2 separate regions of the Homo sapiens genome follow, and region 2 is linked to region 1. Evidence: fine-mapped expression QTL. A gene starts in region 1. The other region holds a variant in brackets. All regions are shown on one strand. Distances are between the middles of the regions.

Region 1 (4,435 bases):
CACTTCCGGCCTGGTGCGGTGGCTCACGCCTGTTATCCCAGCACTTTGGAAATCTGAGGCAGGTTGATCACCTGAGGTCAGGAGTTCGAGAACAGCCTGACCAACATGACGAAACTCTGTCTCTATTAAAAATACAAAAATTAGCCGGGTGTGGTGGCGGGCACCTCTAGTCCTAGCTACTCAGGAGGCCAAGGCAGGAGAATCGCTTGAACGTGGGAGACGGAGGTTGCAGTGAGCTGACATCATGCCACTGTACTCCAGCCTGGTGACAGAGCAAGACTCTGTCTCAAAAAAAAAAAAAACCCACAAACGAAAACAAACCAGGATTGCCACTCCCCAGCTGCCTGGGAAGGAGGGACCACACCTGCCCCTGGGCTGGCAGCCTGGTGGGTAATTCCCAAGGCTCATCCAGCAAGAGCGGAGGCTGCCTGGGCCTCTTGCAGCCTCCTTAGCTGTGGGGACAGAAAAGGGGAGAGGAAGCTGGGACGGGTGCAGGACAGGGAGAAGGGGCTTCCCCCCTCCCCTTCTTCCTCAGAGCCCCCTTGCCGGGCAGCTCCTCAGGGCCTTTCCAGGTCTCTGCTGGCCGCTGCCCTCACCCAGTCTGGCAGGCACCTCACACCCCTCTTGTTCTCCAGTCCCGCCAGGACCGCCTCTGTCCTCGGGAAGCGTCTGCCCTAGCCCAGGCTTTGCATGAACAGGCCCTGCCCTTCCCTCCTTCAGTGACTCCAGTGAGCCTGTCTCGATTCTGTCTCTTGTCCCTCCCCAGTCCCACCCTGGACCCCTGTGCTCAGTGGCTACCAGGTTTGTTCTCCCCTGGCGGCTGGCGTGGGCTCCCATGGGATAAAGCTGCTTCTGCCACAGTGGAAGTTTGGGGTTCCCCTGGCTCTCCCTCCCTGTGGGCGTCTGCACCACCTTCGACTGTGACCTCTTCTTCCCAAATCCCAAGGCAGGGCCTCCCTCCCAGCCCAGAGAGCCCTGAAGCCCCCATCTGGTCAGTCTTCCTGGAAGCCAGGGGTCCTCACAGGGACTACATGGTCCCCACCATGGGATGTGGATGCAGAATCAGGGGCACCCCGGTTTGAGCCTGAGTCTGCTTCAGCCGAGGCTCCTAGACTCAGGTCTAACCAACTCAGTGGCCATGCGATGTCAGCTTGAGCCAGAAGCCGAGTCGGAGAGGCAGGCGGCCAGGGCACAGTGCCGGGAGGGGGCTCTAGGTACTTGCTCCTCAGCACAGAACTAGCCTGTGCCCTGACAAGAGGCCTCCCTGGAGGCCTGAGGATCCGAGCTGACCCTTAGACACCTGGGACAGGTGCAAGAGATGCACACAGCCGCCTCCCTGAGGCTCCGCACAGACCCACCTCGGCCACGTCCTCGACGTTCACCATCTTTTTGGTCTGAGCCACGTGGCCCACGACCCCGATGTCCAGTGGGAAGACGATCTCGGAGTCGGGGGGCACCAGGCAGTCCTCCAGGACGCTGTCCGGCTGCACGCTGAAAAGCCTGGTGGCCAGCTCGGCCACGCCGTTGCGCTGGCGGTACATGAAGAGGCTGCAGCGGTCGGCCTGCAGGAGGGTGCAGAGGCGCCGCAGGACCTTGAAGACCACGCGCTCCATGTTGATGCTCTCCTGCATATCCTGCACCAGCTCCAGCAGCGCCGTGCTCTCCTCCACCTGGCAGAGGTCCCGGAGGCTGTCGCAGTCCGGCGGGCACCCGTCCTCGCAGGCCGCGGCCACATTCTCAGGGCTCAGTTTCTTCCCAAAGTACTGGCGGGCAAAATCGGGGTTCTGGTCCAGAAAGCTCCGGGCCTGCTCCTCACTGAGGCTCATGGTGGCTGCCTGTCCCTGGAGACGCTGCTGCTCCAGGCACGCATGGACTCCCAGGAAACCCTGTCATCAGCAAAGTCTTTCTTAGTGAGATTAGGAACCCCGGGGGCGGGTCAGCTGACTCACTCCTACAAATGGGGGCCTGCGCTCCCTCTCCTCAGACCCTGGGACTTCCCACCTTCCAGGAAAACCAGACCCTGTGGAATGAAGGCTGGGAGTAACTGTTGGGGGATCTCCTGCCTGTTGCAGGCGTCACGGGTGGCTGGGCACAGGCATTTGGCTTCTAGCGGACCAGGCCCTGAGAACTAATCCCCTGAGGAGGTTATCCCACACACAGCATGACGCTTTCTGCTGGTGGAGCTGCCTGAGGGTTTGGGTTGGTCCCACAGGTGGCCCCAGGCCCTCCTGGGAGCCCAGACCTGGGCTCGGGTGTGCTGGGGAGGTGGTGGGGCACTGGCCCTGCCTCCAGGAGATGCAGTTCACCCCTGTGCAGGGAGAGGGGGCTGGGTAATCACACCAGGACCCAAATGCCCAGAGGCCAGCAAGGGGACCCTGGATGTGGAGGTGGGACCACATCCACCTTCCCCCACACTCTGAGGGATGCAGAGTTGCTAGTCAGCCTTTACCTGCTGTCAGGCCCCGGCTGGGACAAGCTTCGGGGTGACGCCGCTCTGAGGCCACATGGCTTTCAGTGGAAAAAGGACCTGAATGTTGGGGGGCTGCCTGGCAACAAAGCCCGACCTCTCCTCTCCGCTGTCACCTCAGCAAGCCTTGCCTGCTCCCATAGGCCTCTCGGCTCCTGGGCCAGCTCCCTGCAGGCCAGCAGGGGTGATGTGGCCAGAAGCACCTTGGCTGGGTCTGGCATGGGCGCCGGCCTGGCGGGCGGGTGGCAGTGTTCCTGATTTCCCTGAATATAAAAACGCTGATTGTCGCTTTCCAGGCACCTTTGTGCTGCCAGATCCTGGGCTTAAGGTTTCTTCCCATCTTTTCCAGTTTATCTGTCCATGTTGTCACCATACTTTTAACCAGGATGCAAGGTTTTCATGTGGTTCTTTTACTGCACTCAGCTGGTAGACGTGTGTGCACGCGTGCATGAGTGTGCACATACGTGTGTGCACGGAGTGTGAGTGTGCGCACGTGTAGGTGTGTGTGTTCGTGTGAGCACGTGTGCATGACAGCCAGGTGCCCTCAGGAGCGCAGAGTTCTCTCAGCACGAGGCCAGGCCCCGGGGAAGCTTCTGCGAGGGCCCTGGGCTGCACCGCTGCAGCTGCCTGTCTCGGAGGCTGCTCTGAGGCAGCATCTGCGCCGTCCACAGTGGGCCCAGCTGGGTGTGCGACGTGTGCCCTTGTGCCATGATGTTCCTGCCTCCACTTAGTCACAAAGTCACTTCCTTTCAAGGATCTGCTGAGAGGCTTCCCCTTTTTCCTAAAAATAGTGAATTCTCACTGGGGACGGGGGAGTGGGGATGTGGGTGGGGGGAGGGGTTGTGGGGCCGCTGCAGTGCTTGGGTTTGGGGCCGGGGGGAGGGTCGCCTGCTTTGCATTCAGTCCCAGAACAGCCTCCAGAGCCTGCCGGTTGCATTTCCCAACTCCCAGGGATGAGCTCACATTGCGCCTGGATGTGAGGATGGCGGCCGGAAACCAGCCTTCAGGTCCTCGGTTGCCCCACCCTGAGGTCTATGCACACGCAGCCCCTCCCCACCTCCTTTTTCCTCTCCGGGCTCTTTCCCGTCCCCCAGTTCCTCACAACCCCCTTCTGGACACCCCCACTTTGCCCCTTGCTCCCCTCCGTCAGCGAGGGGCCTGCCAACCTCCCTCCCACAGGGGCCTCCGTGCCCGCAGAACTGAGACACTCACCTGCGTGTGAAATGAGCTAAGCGCATCTTGAGTGGGACCGCAGAGCTGGAGAGGCCTTGCTGGGGGCATGAGGGCCCTGGGGTGGGGCTGGGGGTGGCAGCTGACCTCAGGCTCTGCCTTGCCACCTGCCCAAGGGAGCGTGGAGTGGCTGGGCTCAGTGTGGAGAGCAGGTGGGACAGGGAAGGGGTGCTGGGCTGAGGATTTGTGGTGCTAGCGGGAGTGAGGGTTGGCTGGGAGGGCTCAGTGTGGAGAGTGGGTGGGACGGGGAAGGGGTGCTGGACTGAAGATTTGGGGCGCTAGCGGGAGTGAGGGTTGGCTGGGAGGAGCCCACAGTCTGCGGCCATAGTCCACTCACCCTAACACGACTGTGACAGCAGCTTCCACCCGCAGCACCGCGTTCCTCACCTGTGGCTTTGTCCTGCCCCAGGAGCCCGTCGTGATTGTAGGTGAGTAGGTTCAGGGCGGCAAGGAGTCCACAGCCTCTGGGGAACCCTGAGCCATGACCATGGGAGTTGTGTGTGAACACCGCAGCTCCCTTACCTGCAGGGGCCCAGAGGTAACTGCTCCATGGCACACTATTGGTTCTATCTTTTCCCCATCTCACTTCCCTACATACCTACTGATGATGCTGGGGGACCCTGATTGGGTTGGACTTGACACAGTCAAAAAGACACACCTGTGAGGCACACCTGTGAGACACACCTGTGAGACACAGCTGTGAGACGCACCTGTAAGGCTTACCTGTGAGATGCACCT
Region 2 (4,000 bases), 30 kb before region 1:
GGATCTCGTCCCTGTCGCACTTCACGTGGTAAAGGACCATGTCCTGTGCGATGTCCTTGCGGTTCTCCAGCTTGTTCATCTTGTCGTAGGTGTCGGTGTTCATCACTGACCAGCCCAGGAACTGTGTCAGGGACTGGAGGGGATGGCAGTGTCACTGGCGCTCAGCGCTCCCGGCGCGCCCCCTCCCATGTGCCTGTGTGCCAGGCCCCGTGGCTCGGCGGGCAGGTCCTGGGGCTGCCACCATGGTGTCGCAGTGCTTCTGTGTGGGGTCTCCCGGGTGCTCTGCAGAGGCTCCTGCTCCCGGGGGGGCCCTTTGTCGTCCTCTCCCTGGCCGCATGCATACCGCACACACATGAGCACACGCACACAGCCGAATGCTTGGCGGGGAGGCCCCCACACCGCACAGGCCCCACCCCTCGCAGGGCATCCCCGGCGGAACCACGTCTGCCCAGGTGCTTACCTCCATGAGAACCTCGTCCTGTTCGTCAAAGGGCTTCCCGTCTTTCCTGTTGTAAAATGTGGCGACTCCCACAATCTCCTCCTTCTTGTTGACGATGGGCATGGACAGCACATTCTTGATGAGCCACCCGGAGTCGTCCAGGGCCCCTTCCTGCGGGAGCGGTGTCCAGAGCTGAGCTCCGCCCTGAGGCTGGCCCTGGCCCGGGCGTGTGGCCGGGGAGAGTGACCTCATGTCTTCTCCCCTAGAGCCGTGACGGCTGGGCTCGTGTTCCTGTCTCTGCTCTCTGCATTCCCTCTCTCCCTCTCTGCATTTGGAGTTTGTGTCCATGGTTTTTGTGTCATGATATTTTCCCACCGGAGGAGGTAGAGGCCGTTTTCCCACCAGGAGTGGTTTCATGGGCATGTGTGTGGGGCGGCGGTCACGGCCTCGCAGGGGTGTGTGGGGGCCGCGGTCACGGCCTCGCAGGGGTGTGTGGGGGCCGCGGTCACGGCCTCGCAGGGGTGTGTGGGGGCCGCGGTCACGGCCTTGCGGGCGTGTGTGGGGGCTGTGGTCACAGCCCCAGGTGATCCACCCGCCTCAGCCTCCCAAAGTGCTGGGATTACAGGCGTGAGCCACCATGCCTGGCTGAAGTTGTTTTTTAAGTGGCAAAAACGAATTCACTTCATCATCGCTGAATCAAAATCTCCTCTTTTGTAAGTAAGTATAATTTCTACCAAGGCACAGACAGATACCTGAAATTTGAACATTTCGTCAGCGGAAGCATTCATGATGTTACAAATCTGAAAAAGCATCAGAAAAACGATTTCATCCAAAACAGCGGAAGGTCTGTTATGATCTAAAATGGCCTCTGTGGCCCTGAGGTGAGCTTTTAAGTAGGTAAAGCAGGGCAGCTGGGGGCTTCACTGAGGCACGTGGAGCTGGCCGGGAGGGCGGGACGTGGCAGAGACAAGGAGAAGCACACATCGCCGCACCCAGTGAGGGCAAGGCTGTGGGGACTCCAGACAGCACGGGACTCACAAAGCCGCTTTCTGCCACGTAGCTTGGAAGGCCGCTGGCCAGGGCCCAGTGATCGGCTGAGGGTGTGCTGTGGGCAGAGAGCAGGGGTCAGATAGGCCACGCCGGGCTGGATGTGCGCGTGCAGGAGTCAGAGGGACTGGATGTCTGTGTGCAGGG[G/T]TGAGAGGGGCTGGTCTAGGCTGCACGTGTGTGTGCAGGGGTCAGAGGGGCTGGTCTGGGCTGCACGTGTGTGTGCAGGGGTCAGAGGGGCCAGGCTGCGCTGGATGTAGGTGTACTGGGGTCAGATGGACTGGGCGTGTGTGCAGGGGTCTGGGGGTCTCTGGCTCATGTGCCATCCTCAGCATTTACTCTCTTCTCTGAGTGCCAGGGGGTTCAGGAGGCGAGGAGGCCAGGGCGTGGGTTGGAGGACGGCTGTGCTGCCTTCTTCCTCCTCCCCAGGCTGCCGTGCTGGGGCCCCTCCCTCTTGGGAACCCCTCCCTCTCCGGAGGCCGTATGGCTTCAGCCTGCTTTCTAGGACTCAGCGTTGGTGCCTGCCCTGCCACCCTGACCCTGACTTGTGCTCAAGCCTGGCACCTGGATCCTGGTTCCTGCTTGGGGCCTGGGGATGGGGTCCCAATAGGCTTATGGGATCACAGGGCCACTGGGCCACCAGCTGCCCCTCCCTTGGCTGGAGTCCTGCCCTGACCTCCGGACTGGAGTTCCCCTCCTCTTCCAGCCCCACGGGGCCAAGACTCGGCCTCCTGGCTGGAGGCTCCACTGTCTGGGTGGGGCTGGTGGTGCCAGGGTCAAATCCTGGGGCCTTCATGCTCAATTGTTGCTGACGAGGCCGCCTGGACAGCTTGCCTGGTCCCCTGTATGTCCACTCTGGATGTCCACAGTGACTCGGGCTCCTCAGCAGCCCACGTCCTCCTCACCATCTCCCAGAACAGTGAGTCGGCTTCTGTCTCACCCCCAACTCCACTATGCCCCACGGCACACAGAGCACCACAGGTGGGGCCAGGCCAGGCCGGTGCTGCTGACTGCACCGTGGGAAGCCCTGGGAGGACGGCCCTGGGGGCTGAGCCGGGGTCTGAGGGGCGGTCCCTCCCCCGGGGACGCTTCTGGTAAAATCCTGCACTTACGGAATGACCTTGATCTCCTCCTTGCCGTGGAGGACGTAGTCGATCACTTTGTAGAAGACAATTTCCTGAGAAGCAGAAGACACTGGTCGGGGGGCTGCCTGGCCAAGCTCTGAGGGGCTCACACACACACACACAGCTACATGCAGCTACACACAGCCACACGCATGCACACCCCCACACACGTAACCGTGCATGTGTACACACGTGAACAGATGTCTCCGCCGTGCGCAGGTATTCTACGAATGCGGGTGCACTCACACCCATGTCCACACATGCACAGGCTCAGGGTGCACACACATGCAGACCGTCCCCAATACTCACGGGACACGCATCACACGCCGCGGTTTACATCTGTCTTCCCAGTCTGTGTTCCGCACAATCCCACACACAAGCTGGGCCCGTACTCTCACACACACACACACACACGCATCCTACACGTGCACAGGAGGTCCCACGTGGGGAGATGGGGCAGCAGGAGCCCCCACAATCAGAGCCGACGTGGGTCTTCACGACCAGCCTGGCGGCCCTCATTCAGGGACCAGCCCTGGACACCCCATCCCTGGAGTGCAGCAGCAGGGGAGCCTGGTGGAGACCACAGACAGGCACCCGGGGTCCCACCGGCCAGTTCCCACCTCCCTAAACCCCACCCCTATCCCTCCCTCTCCTGCCCTGGAGTTGGAGTCAGGGAAACAGAGGCGTGTGGACAGGCCCTGGGCCCCTCCCCTAAGACTCACCCGGCCATCAGGCGTGCGTGGGCCCGAGTACGGCTGGGACTCTCCCATCAGCACAGACCACACGTCAAAAAATTCCTGGGCAGAGAAGAGGTGAGGGTGGGGCGGTCACTGCGGGACCTGGGTCGGGCCAGGCAGGGGGTCCCTGAGCCACGGAAGCCTCACCTTCTCCTTGGTCATGTCCAGGAGGCCCACGGAGTACCGCTCGCAGTTGAGGTAGGCCCGCACCGTGTAGAAGGCCTTGTGGAACTGCCTCTCGATGTCCGTCAGCTCCTCAAACACCTTGTTGGCCGACCACAGCAGCACCTGGAGGGAGGGGCACACCTGTGGGCCTGTGGCCACTCCCACCCTCACGCCGGTCTGACCACAGCAGCAGGGGTTTAACTCAAGCCTGACACAGGTGCGCTCCCTGATCTGACCACCTGCCCAGCCGTGGAGCCTGGCACAGACCCTGATTGGTGGCTCCGTGGCCAGGTTTCATCTGAGCTTGTGGGGCCCGGGAGCTGGCTGGCGGTGAGGCCTCGAGGCTGCGGTCGTGTCCCTGATCACTCAGGAGTGGACGAGTGGAAAGTGGAATCTGTCGCTTTGAGCTTGACAGGCAAACATCCGACCAGCCCTTCCTCCGCCCGGCTGCTCCAGAACCACCTGCGGCGAGCAGGGCTTTGAGAACATCG

Alleles and levels. Positions count from the first base shown, and alleles are read on the strand shown. Sizes are in standard deviations (SD) of each study's normalised expression.
With allele G in place of T in region 2, the expression in caudate of the gene that starts at base 1,880 in region 1 is higher (small effect, 0.27 SD a copy in GTEx).

What was found. PIP is the estimated chance that this variant, and not a neighbour inherited with it, causes the effect.
Region 2: its variant is the best candidate, but not a certain one, in a credible set for the expression of PDE6B in caudate (GTEx, PIP 0.53).

What each region holds. Positions count from the first base shown.
Region 1 is chr4:623,018-627,452 of GRCh38, reverse strand. PDE6B (phosphodiesterase 6B) reads right to left here and starts at 1,880. Exons shown (of 22, transcript NM_000283.4): 1 at 1,359-1,880. The coding sequence starts at 1,826. RefSeq lists enhancers at 226-1,214, 1,215-2,204, 3,194-4,184.
Region 2 is chr4:653,484-657,483 of GRCh38, reverse strand. It overlaps PDE6B (phosphodiesterase 6B), which reads right to left. Exons shown (of 22, transcript NM_000283.4): 4 at 3,492-3,632; 5 at 3,330-3,404; 6 at 2,596-2,660; 7 at 1,478-1,544; 8 at 1,192-1,239; 9 at 461-610; 10 at 1-133. PDE6B-AS1 (PDE6B antisense RNA 1) reads left to right here and starts at 2,284. Exons shown (of 4, transcript NR_183811.1): 1 at 2,284-2,402; 2 at 3,271-3,419; 3 at 3,513-3,726; 4 at 3,801-4,000. The variant G/T (reference allele first, on the strand shown) is at 1,634.